3 linked regions of the Homo sapiens genome follow. The protein of the gene in region 1 purifies or fractionates together with the protein of each later gene. This does not show direct contact. Each region holds a gene or a part of one and is shown on either strand. Other genes may lie near its edges.

What was found.
Region 2: the proteins of CLIC5 (region 1) and MYO5C purify together in Homo sapiens (affinity purification with mass spectrometry; one large-scale study listed by BioGRID and IntAct). This does not show direct contact.
Region 3: the proteins of CLIC5 (region 1) and MYO5B purify together in Homo sapiens (affinity purification with mass spectrometry; one large-scale study listed by BioGRID and IntAct). This does not show direct contact.

What each region holds. Positions count from the first base shown.
Region 1 is NC_000006.12:45,907,839-45,911,491, reverse strand, and holds part of CLIC5 (chloride intracellular channel protein 5), read left to right. Parts: intron 1-3,653. UniProt on the Homo sapiens protein: In the soluble state, catalyzes glutaredoxin-like thiol disulfide exchange reactions with reduced glutathione as electron donor. Can insert into membranes and form non-selective ion channels almost equally permeable to Na(+), K(+) and Cl(-).
Region 2 is NC_000015.10:52,247,199-52,250,851, reverse strand, and holds part of MYO5C (unconventional myosin-Vc), read left to right. Parts: intron 1-2,068; coding exon 2,069-2,152; intron 2,153-3,259; coding exon 3,260-3,394; intron 3,395-3,653. UniProt on the Homo sapiens protein: May be involved in transferrin trafficking. Likely to power actin-based membrane trafficking in many physiologically crucial tissues.
Region 3 is NC_000018.10:49,901,520-49,905,172, reverse strand, and holds part of MYO5B (unconventional myosin-Vb), read left to right. Parts: intron 1-344; coding exon 345-501; intron 502-2,339; coding exon 2,340-2,579; intron 2,580-3,653. UniProt on the Homo sapiens protein: May be involved in vesicular trafficking via its association with the CART complex. The CART complex is necessary for efficient transferrin receptor recycling but not for EGFR degradation.

The sequences.
Region 1 (3,653 bases):
TGAATTTGCTCTTAGCCAAGACAGCCTCTTCTCAAAGGAACTTGGCCCAACCCAAGGGATCATCATCTTTCAGTGAACAGAAAGGGACTGGGGAGATATCGTGGTGGCATCTCTCATTGTGAGAGCTTTATCAAAGGACTCGGACTTCATCACCCTTGCTTGTAGTTACCTAAGCCAGACAGAACAGTGTGGGGGTGGCTTCTTTGGTGCCCACACCAAACCAGTTATTTTAACAGAGAGAATTTAAGGAAGTACTATGTAGTAAAGAACTGGAAAGGCAAAATATACTAGGAGGTTCTACCTTCAAGAGGCAGCTACTACTCCTAGGGCAGGAGGAACAAAGGGAAGAGGTTGGAATTATTAAAACTTACAAACTTAGGGGCTCTGTAGATGAGGGACCCTGCAGAGCTGAATGTCGGTGAAAGTGATGCTCAGCTGGTGCCAGGGTCCAAGCTCAGGTTGGCTGGGATCCAGCCTCTAAAGCAGAGTTCCTGCTATGTGCTGGCCTCTCTGCGTGGGTATGATGAAGTGGTCCTGTGAGTATTGACAAAATAGCAAACTGGATTCAGCTGCTGCTCCCAGAAATAAATGGAGACTCTGACAGAAAGAGGAAGCTGAAAAGCATGGGCTTCTCCCTCCCTTCTCCTCCTCCAACCTTGCTGGCTCTCTCCAGTAACTCCTCTTGGCAGAACCTAACAGGATTCACTGGCAAAGAAGAGATGTGATCTGCTCAGTCCTAGCCCCAGCATCACAAAAAATAGTAAATAGAAGAGTAGGTTTGGAGACAAGCAACAGTAAATTAATGGCTGGAACATGAGGGATTCTGAGTAGACCGACCCATTGCTTTATCAGCTATGTAGGGCTGAGTAGTAAAGTAGAAAGAACTGTGGATTATAAAGCAAGGACTGTAATAAATATTAATGGTAACTCAATAGATATTGGTTAAATTAATTAATTTATCATGTAACATTAAGTCACATAATCTCTTGTAGCTTCAGTTTGCTCATTGCTAGGGATCTTCAGTCTTTAAAATTATTTTATTACACTTGACACTAGAGAACCTTGTCTGATGTACAGATAAGATTGTAAACTTTGAATCCCAACCTATTTAATCTCCCTTTGTCTTGCTTTTCTCATCTGTAAATGGGAATATAATAGATTCTTCCTTATAGGATTATTTAGAGATTTAAGTACCTTGCAAAGTACTTAAAGCAGTCCCTGGAACAGAGCACACAGTGAATAAATGTTTGTTATTATCATTCCTCTGATCAACATCATTATTGAGATTATCAAGGAGTACAGAAGTGAAGAACCTGTGATTGCTATCCTTACACTGCCCACAAGTTAGAAAAAAAAAGGGTACTGAAACAGTAATCATGATTCAGAATAGATTATAGCTCAGTGTTATAACAGAAGTTCAACACTGGCCTAGGAGCATAGAGGGGAAAAAATGTTCCCAGATGTCTGTGAACATGTCTGCAACAGTGAGTTTTTCATCCATCAAGTCATCATCATCCTTCACTTCAGCATAACTTTCTGGGAAACTCTGCATATTACCAGCACCAAAATGGAGACAAAAGCCCAGAGTGACTGATCTGGGGCTTCTCTGAATGGGAGGATCCCAGGGTCAATGGTCTAGGGCCCTCTCTGAAAATGAAAGCAAGGTAGAAGGTGGATATACAGATACAAGAAATCCAGAGAACACCTGTGAGATACCATACAAAATGAACTTCACCAAGGTATATAGTCACCAAACTGTCCAAGGTCAATGCCAAAGAAAAAAGTCTTAAAGGCAGCTAGAGAAAAAGGTCAGAACACATACAAATGGAACCCCATCAGGCTAACAGCAGACTTCTCAGCAGAAATATTGCAAGCCAGAAGAGATTGAGGGCCTATTTTCAGCATTCTTAAAGAAAGAAATTCCAACCAAGAGCTTCATATCCCACCAAACTAAGCTTTGTAAACAAAGGAGAAATAAAATCTTTTCCAGACAAGCAAGTGCTAAGGGAATTTATTACCATTAGACCATACTTACAAGAGATCCTTAAGGGACTCTAAACATGGAAACAAAAGAATGATACCTGCTACCACAAAAACACACTTGTAAATAGCCAACAGACCCTATAAAGCAAGCACACAATAGAAACTACAAAGTAACCAGCTAACAGCTTCACGAAAAGATCAAAACCTCACATATCAATATTAACCTTGAATGTAAATGATCTAAGTGCCCCACTTGAAAGACATAGAGTGGCAATTTGGATAAAAAATAAGAGCCACTCATCTGCTGTCTTCAAGAGACCCCTCTCATATGTAACAACACCCATAGGCTCAAAGTAAAGGGCTGAAGAAAGATCTATTACACAAATGGAACATAAAAAAGAGCAGGGGTCACTATTCTCATATCAGGTAAAACATACCACAAACCAACAATAGTGAAAAAAAAAAAAAGAACAAAGAAGGGCATTACATAATAGTAAAGGGGTGACTACAACAAGAAGACTTAACCATTCTAAATATATACACACCCAACACTGGAGCACCCAGGTTCACAAAACAAGTACTTCTAGACCTATGAAAAGACTTAGCAACAACACACAATAATAATGGGGGACTTCAACAACTCACTAACAACGTTAGACAGATCTTCGAGGCAGAAAACTAACAAAGATATTCTGGACTCAAATTCAACACTTGACAATTGGACATAACAGACATCTACTGAATACTCCACCCATTGACCATAGAATATACATTCCTTTCATCTGCACACAGAACATACTCCAAGATCAACCACATGCTCAGTCATAAAGCAAATCTCAATAAATTAAAAAAAATAGAAATTATATCAATCATACTCTTGGACCACAGTGGAACAAAAATAGAAATCAACACCAAGAAGATGTCTCAAAATCACACAATTACATGAAATTAAACAACTCACTCCTGAATTACTTTTGGGTAAACAACAAAATTACGGCAAAAGTAAAAACATTCTTTGAAATAAATGAAAACAAAGACACAACATACCAAAATCTCTAGGATGTAGCAAAAGCAATATTACAAGGAAAGTTTATAGCACGAAATGCCTACCTCAAAAAGTTAGAAAGATCTCAAATTGACAAAGTAACATCACACCTAGAGGAACTAGAAAAACAGGAACAAACTAACCTCAAAGCTAGTATAGTAAAAGAAATAACTAAAATCAGAGCAGAACTGAATGAAATTGAGACCCAAAAATTCATACAAAGAATCAATGAAACCAAAAGTTGGTTTTTTGAAAGGATAAAGAAGATCCATAAACCATTAGCTAGATTAACAACAACAACAACAAAAAAGAAAATCCAAATAAGCACAATCAGAAATGACAAAGAAGACATTACAATTGAGCTCACAGAAATACAGAAGATCCTTAAAGACTATTATGAACATCCCTATGCACACAAACTAGAAAATCTAGAGGAAATGGATAAATTCCTAGAAATACACTTTTCAATTGCCTTGAAAACTGTAACAAGACAAGGATGCCCACTCACCGCTCCTATTCAACATCATAGTGGAAGTCCAGAGCAATTGGGCAAGAGAAAGAAATAAAAGGCCTACAAGTAGGAAAAGAAGAAGTTAAATTCTCTCTTTACTGATTATGATTCTAT
Region 2 (3,653 bases), on another chromosome or scaffold:
TAGAAAACAGAAGGAAAAAATTGCCATAACCACCTGCCCTAAATGTACATTCTTATTTGTTTTCCTTCCTTAAGGGAGCTCCTACCTCCTCCCATGTCCTGGTTGGGTGTTGCCTTGGTGGCCTAGCCCAGTGCCAGGGCTCACAGGAATGGCTTGTGCTTGTCTATGTTTATCGCAGAGGCCGGTGCTGTGAGTCAGAGCTGGTCATTCCCGAGTGACTGATGGTGGAGGGAGGGGACAGCAACCTGGAAAGCTGTGATCACCTTTGTGTGCTAGCAGAGTACTGTAAAATATTAAAATATAGGATTGGCCGGGTGCAGTGGCTCACACCTGTAATCCCAGCACTTTGGGAGGCTGAGGCGGGTGGATCGCTTGAGACCAGGAGTTTGAGACCAGCCTGGCCAACATGGCGAAACCCCATCTTTACTAAAAAATACAAAAATAAGCCAGGCGTGGTGGCACGCACCTGTAATCCCAGCTACTCAGGTGGCTGAGGCAGGAAAATTGCTGGAACCTGGGAGGCGGAGGTTGCATTGAGCCAAGATCACGCCACTGCACTCCAGCCTGGCTGACAGAGTGAGACCCTGTCTCAAAAAAAAAAAAGAAAAAGAAAAAGAAAAAAAAAAGATAAGTTTTTAGTGCTTAGACTTTTTCAGATGGGCTCCTGAAAAGATGCCTATGAAATGAAATGATCATATGTCAAATTATATTTCCTAGCTATTGTCATAATTTCAGGGTTCTGGTCCCATAGGAAAAGGGAGGGGGAAAGACCAGACTCCATAAAAAGCACATATGGGATTTCTTTCAAGGGTCTCTCTTTATAGGATGTAGTTTCTGGACATGTAATTCTCTCACCTGCCACTTCCAAGAAGTCTCCCTTAAAAGAACTAGGCAGCGTTTGGGCTGGACTATGGATTGATTGGTGGGAAGAACCCACATGCACTATGGGGTTAGATTAGGTTTTCAATCTCATTGGCCAGGGAAATCAGGTCGTATTGAATGCAAGTCAGCTGAGCTTAGATGTAGCAGCTCAGCACATCTTCCTTTGGTCCCAGAGTCCCCAACAGAGGCACCAGCTGCATGTGACACTGTCCCCACAGATGCTCGCCCAGACCAGGAAAGCTCTGTATTTGCCACCTTTGTCTATCTGTCCTAGTGGCTCACACCACCATTCTGGAAGAATTTGTACAACAATCCAGGTACTTCATTCACAAAGAAGTGTTTGCAAACAGCCGGTGTTCCTGGATCTTAACCTACCTACCGGCAAGGATACTTCCTTACCTGGGGGACAAAGCAGAGGCCATGCCCAGGGAACCCTCTGCTTACGGATTCCAGCACTCTCCCCTGTTTCCTCATTGTCAATTTTTAAAATTAATTTTAATATACGTTTTTAATTTATGAAAAATAAATTATCACATATTAAGATATGCAATCCAGAGGCATAAACTAGGGGGAGGTTGAATGTTGAAGCAGCCACCCTGGATATGCCATGGTTTGAGGCATTCGAGAAGCCTTCTTCATCAGAAAGGGCAGCATGGAGAGTTTTTCTAAGCTAGATTCAAGCAGTGCAAAGGTTGACCCACTCTAAACCTGATTCTGAGGGCTTGGTGGCTCTTGAAGGCTTGGTGGTCAGCTGGTCGGTTTTTCTATCCTTTCTACCACATTAATGTTGATTTAGGAAACGATGTCTGTTTGAACCCAATGAACACCACTAAGCTTTTTCCTCCTCCTGGTGGCTTCAAAGGCAAAGGGAGACCTAAGTCAGGTGTTCTTGTAGGAACTGCACATACCGCAGGGAGCAACTGGACCCCTGTGGCCAGAGGGAGCCAACAGGTGAGTGCAGAGTGATCAGCAGGCAGGTGAGAAACCCAGGTGGTGGGAGAGAAGACACATTCCCAGCTTATACATAATGGGGCTGCTGCCATGATGCACAGAAGCCAGACGTCTTTTTGTAAGATTGCCTCTGTAGCCTTTTTTATTAATCTTTCTTAAAAAAGAGATGAAACTTGTGCTTAGAGGCTATATTCTTTGGCCTCTTTGGGAATAATTAATTGCTTTCTCTGTATAGGTAGAGTATAAATGTGAAGGTTTCCTGGAGAAAAACAGAGACACCGTCTATGACATGCTGGTTGAAATCCTGAGAGCAAGCAAGGTCTGTAAAGTCCTAGGGGTAACTAAAGTTATTATATAATTGACATGGATCTAGATGTATATAAGGAAAGAGTAAGGAGAGAGAGAGAGAGAGTGTGTGTGTGTGTGTGTGTGAACTCTCTGGACAGTGGTAAGTTGTAGCTCACAGATTCAAAAAGATAACTACTGTAAATCTCTACTATATGCAAAATCAGAAATCAAACATGCAGATGACAGGAAGGACAGCTAATAGAACCATTGAAGAATCACAATTCCAGCCAGACGTGGTGGCTCACGCCTGTAATCCCCGCATTTTGGGAGGCAGAGGCGGGTGGATTGCTTGAGGCCAGAAGTTTGAGACCAGCCTGGCCAAAAAAGCAAGACCCTGTCTCTTCTAAAAATATAAAAAAACATTAGCAGGGAATGGTGACATGCCTGTAGTCCCAGCTACTTGGGAGGCTGAGGTGGGGAAGACTGCTTGGCCCTGGGAGATAGAGGCTGCAGTGAGCCATGATTGCGCCACTGCACTCTTCTTCTGGGCAGCAGAGCAAGACCCTGTCTCAAAACAAAACAAAACAAAACAAAATATGAAATTCACTCTGAGAGAAGATAAGACATTTAAAGAAATAACTGATACAAAGCAGAAGGTAGTAAGTGCTTTAAATGAGGTACAAATACAAGATGAAGACGGTTCAGAGAAGTTGGGATTAATTCATTCATTGCGAAGTGGGTGGGGCTGGAAAACATTTTAAGAGATTCCTGGGTAGGGTTTGGATCTGCAGGGATGAGAATGTGGAGTAGGAGGGAGGAGATTGCAGGTGGAGACACAGTGTGAGCCAGGCACGGAGGTGAGAATAGTAGATGTTTCCACTTTCTGACACTTAGAGTGATACCCACATACAGACATTTACACACTTTTCTTCTCTGTTCCCCTTCTCGGGAAAGAAGTCACGGGCCATCCCTATGAAAGACGATCGTCTTGTGGAATTGAGATTTGGCTGTAGATGTTGGTGAGGTTGTTCACCGCCCACTAGTTTAGCTGAGTTGTTGTCACCATTTACGTGGCTTGTATGAGTGAGTACTGTGGGCAGTTGCTTTTGGACATTGAGATCCTCTCTGTTCCTTCCAGTTTCATCTCTGTGCCAACTTTTTTCAAGAAAATCCAACTCCTCCTTCTCCTTTTGGTTCAATGATTACAGTTAAATCTGCAAAGCAAGTCATCAAGCCAAACAGCAAGCATTTCCGGACCACAGTTGGGAGCAAGGTACTGAGAAGGTGTTTGAGAGTGAGGGGTCTAAAGGCAGGGCCAGGCCCTGGGGAGCCAGGGCACTCAGAGGACCCGCATTCCAGGCCTGGACATGGACAGACGCTGGGGCTCTTCCAATCTAACATGGACTCCACTGCAAAAAGTTCATCGTCGTCATACTTCCACCTCCAAGGCAGCACGCACTGGAGCAAACCACGCTCTTGCACAATAACATGGTTTATTCAGTTCTCTGCTGTCTGGGAGTATTAGTGTTCTG
Region 3 (3,653 bases), on another chromosome or scaffold:
TGTAGAATGCTACTGGTGAAGTAGTTGAGGACTGCCCAGGCACAGTGAGGTAGAAGAGTGCTCAGATAAGGATCATAGAGGAAGTCAGACTCTGACTGAGTTTGAAGCTTGTGGGAAGCCTTTCGAGACCATAAGGAAAGAACTAACACTGCTTTTCTAGCCACAACGTCAAATGCCTAAGGCATTGCTACATTTGTTAGGGGTGAAGAGAGTTGGTTTCCCCTGGGTGTGTCCAGGTAGGGCCACAGAGGGAGAGGTTTGCATTTGCAGATGTCTCAGGGTTCTCTGCATCAGGGCGGTCAATACTCTCTCCCTGACACTGCCTGTTTCCTCTTGCTCCCCAGGCTGGCTGAGCACCTGCGGAGGATCAGAGCGGCTGTGGTGCTCCAGAAACATTACCGCATGCAGAGGGCCCGCCAGGCCTACCAGAGGGTCCGCAGAGCTGCCGTTGTTATCCAGGCCTTCACCCGGGCCATGTTTGTGCGGAGAACCTACCGCCAGGTGAGTAGCCACTCTGAGGGCCTCAGGGCTGCAGATTCAGAACTAAAGTGGCAACAGATGAATTACTGCCAACGTGAACCTCTGTCAAGCACTCCCAACTTTTTTCTAAATGCTTTCACATCTCTGCTCTCACCAAATCCTTTCTGAAGTCCCACAAGGTAGGAAGGGTGTGCATACTGTTGTCTTAGTCCATTAAATGTTGCTATAACAATATCTGAGGCTGGGTGATTTATGAAGAAAAGAGGTTTATTTGGCTCACAATTCTGGTGGCCAGAAAGTTCACAATTGAACATCTGCTTCTGGAGAGGGCCTCAGGCTGCTTCCACTCATGGTGGGAGGTGGAAGCCGGTGTGTGCAGAGGTCGCATGGTGAGAGAGGAAGCACAAGAGTGGCTCTTTTAACAAGCAGCTCTAATGAGAACTAACAGTGAGAAATCACCCTTGAAGAAGGGCATTTATTTGTTCATGAGGGATCTGCCTCTATGACTCAAACATCTCCTGTTAGACTCCATCTCCAACATAGGGGATCAGATTTCAACATGAGTTTTGAAGGGGCCCAGCATCCAATCATGGCAGTTTTCACACCCCTTCTGATACCTGAGTTGCTCAGAGAAGCCAGGTCACCTGCCTGAGGGCCCAGGCCAGCCAACAGCAGGGCCAGGTGACCCACCTAGGGCTCATTCACACTTGAGGGCAGGCGGTGGTATTGGGCATCATCAGGTCTAACTCCTCCACTTAACGGATCAGGAGCTTGAAGCCCAACATGGTGAGGTCAGGAGGGAGGCCCCGACCTCTTCCCTGCCAGGTTCTTGCTCTTTGTGTTGTTCCAGTGAAGCCAAAACCCTTGGGTTCAGGAGCCCCACATCAGGACACATCTGTTCAACCAGGTAACACCAACACATCTGAAGCACAGAGCTGACTTGAAACACGAATTGGAAGGAAATGTCTAAAATGGTTTTCTTTTTCATTAAATGAACATCTGTCTCTTCTATGATCACAGAAGGTGTGATTTTCTAAATAATAAAAGTAAAGCACGAAATTGATAATAATAAAAATGTGGTCAGGGTGGAGCACACCCTGGTGTAGTATGTAGAGAAACCCAGGCCATTGGGAGAAGGTTCTGTGAGTGTTCTTGGGTGATGGGTGGCGTTGGTGTGCTGCTCCCATGGAAGGGGCAGGTGATGTTTGGGAGTTTCTCAGCAGGGGCAGCATGTGCAAAGAGTGAGCACTGATGTGGCTCCCAGCTCTGTCACTCATGGCTGTGGCACTGTTCATTGCTCAGCCTGTTTGCTTGTTTACTCATTTATTCCACAAACATTTATTTTACCAGGTATTAGGGCGAGCACACTGATGATGCTTTCATATCCTGAGTGGTTTTTTAACTTGGTAGAAAAAAAAAAACAGTGAATTACACACCAAGTTTGTAATTATAAGCCATTAGCCTGCTGTGGACACTCACTGAAGTATCTCACTTCCAGCTCAGTGCCACCAGGAGGGGACCTCCACCTGGTAAATGGGTAGAGAGCAAGTGGATGATCATTAGGCCCCTACAACCTTGAGGTTTTCAGACTGTGGTTTCCTAACCCATAAAACAAAAAGTAAAACAAAGCTGAAAAGAGTTTGACAGCTGATTCCCTGTGGATATGTAGGCGCAGAACCTCGCTGAAATGTGTTATAAAACAACCACCAAAGCCTTAGATCTTAGGGGGCACATTGTCTGTGTAACTCCTAGAACCAAGGCTGCCCTGGCCTCTTCCCTCCACAGGCAGTGATGTATGCTTCCTTCACTCCTGTCCTGCAGTGCAAACCCACAAGATGTGTATCCTTGTTTCCCGCCAGGTCCTCATGGAGCACAAGGCCACCACCATCCAGAAGCACGTGCGGGGCTGGATGGCACGCAGGCACTTCCAGCGGCTGCGGGATGCAGCCATTGTCATCCAGTGTGCCTTCCGGATGCTCAAGGCCAGGCGGGAGCTGAAGGCCCTCAGGATTGAGGCCCGCTCAGCAGAGCATCTGAAACGTCTCAACGTGGGCATGGAGAACAAGGTGGTCCAGCTGCAGCGGAAGATCGATGAGCAGGTCAGTGTCTGCAGCTCCCTACCTGGGTGTCGGGGGCTTGGGTACTGGAGCATTTTGAGAGAGCCCACAGCTTCCTTGAGGAACTGCACATGCCGAAGACCCGAGGGAGCACAGACGTCCTCAGACCACAGCAGATACTAACTGTGGCAGGCAGATCAGTGACCCCTAAAGATACCCTCAGCCCTGGGATCTGTGAGTGTGTTACCTTATATGGCAAAAGGGACTTTGCAGATGCAATTAAATTAAGAACTGTAGGATGGGAAGAGTATCCTGGGTGAGCCAGGTGAGCTTGATATAACAGGGGTCCTCCTAAGAGGGAGGCTGGAGGATCAAGTTCAGAGAAGAAGTGATGACAGAATCAGAGGTGGGAGGGATGCAGGCAGCCTTGAGAAGCCAGAGAAGACGAAGACATGGACTCTCCCCTAGAGCGTCCAGAAAGAATGCAGCCGTGCCAACCCCTTCAGACTCCTGACCTCCAGAGCTGTAAGATAATGATTTATGCTATCTTGAGTCATAACTTGGTGGTAACTTGTTGCAGCAGCAATAGGAAACTGACACACTAGCCCAAGGTGCTGGTGTTTTGCCCTTGCAGGGGTGACATAGGGTAATGCAGCAGCAGCTGGTGTGCATGGAGGGCTTGCTGTGTGGGGTATGGGGCTGGCGCTTTGACTGGAGTAGCTTGTCTAATATAGCGGCCCTCCTACGGCAAGTATTACCATCCCCCTTTTTGTACAATTGAAGACACTGGAAGGGCACATGGCATCCTAAAGTCACACAGGTGGCAGTGGCAGGGCCGAGGTTTGAACCCCAGCTGTCTGGCTCCAGAGCCCATGCTCTGCATCACTTTGCCCTTCTGTCTCTCTGTCTGCCTATCTGTCTGTCTGCCTCTTTTGGAAAGAGTGTTTGCTTTGGAAATCAGAATTCAGTTCTTCTGCTTAAAAGTTGAGTGGCTGATGTGACTACTCTGAACCTCTTTTCTTATCCATAAAATGGGGCTGACAGGGCTGAAAGAAGAATAAATGGTCTAATGCATATGCAGGGCCTGGTATGCAGTAGGAGAAACTTGAAAAATGG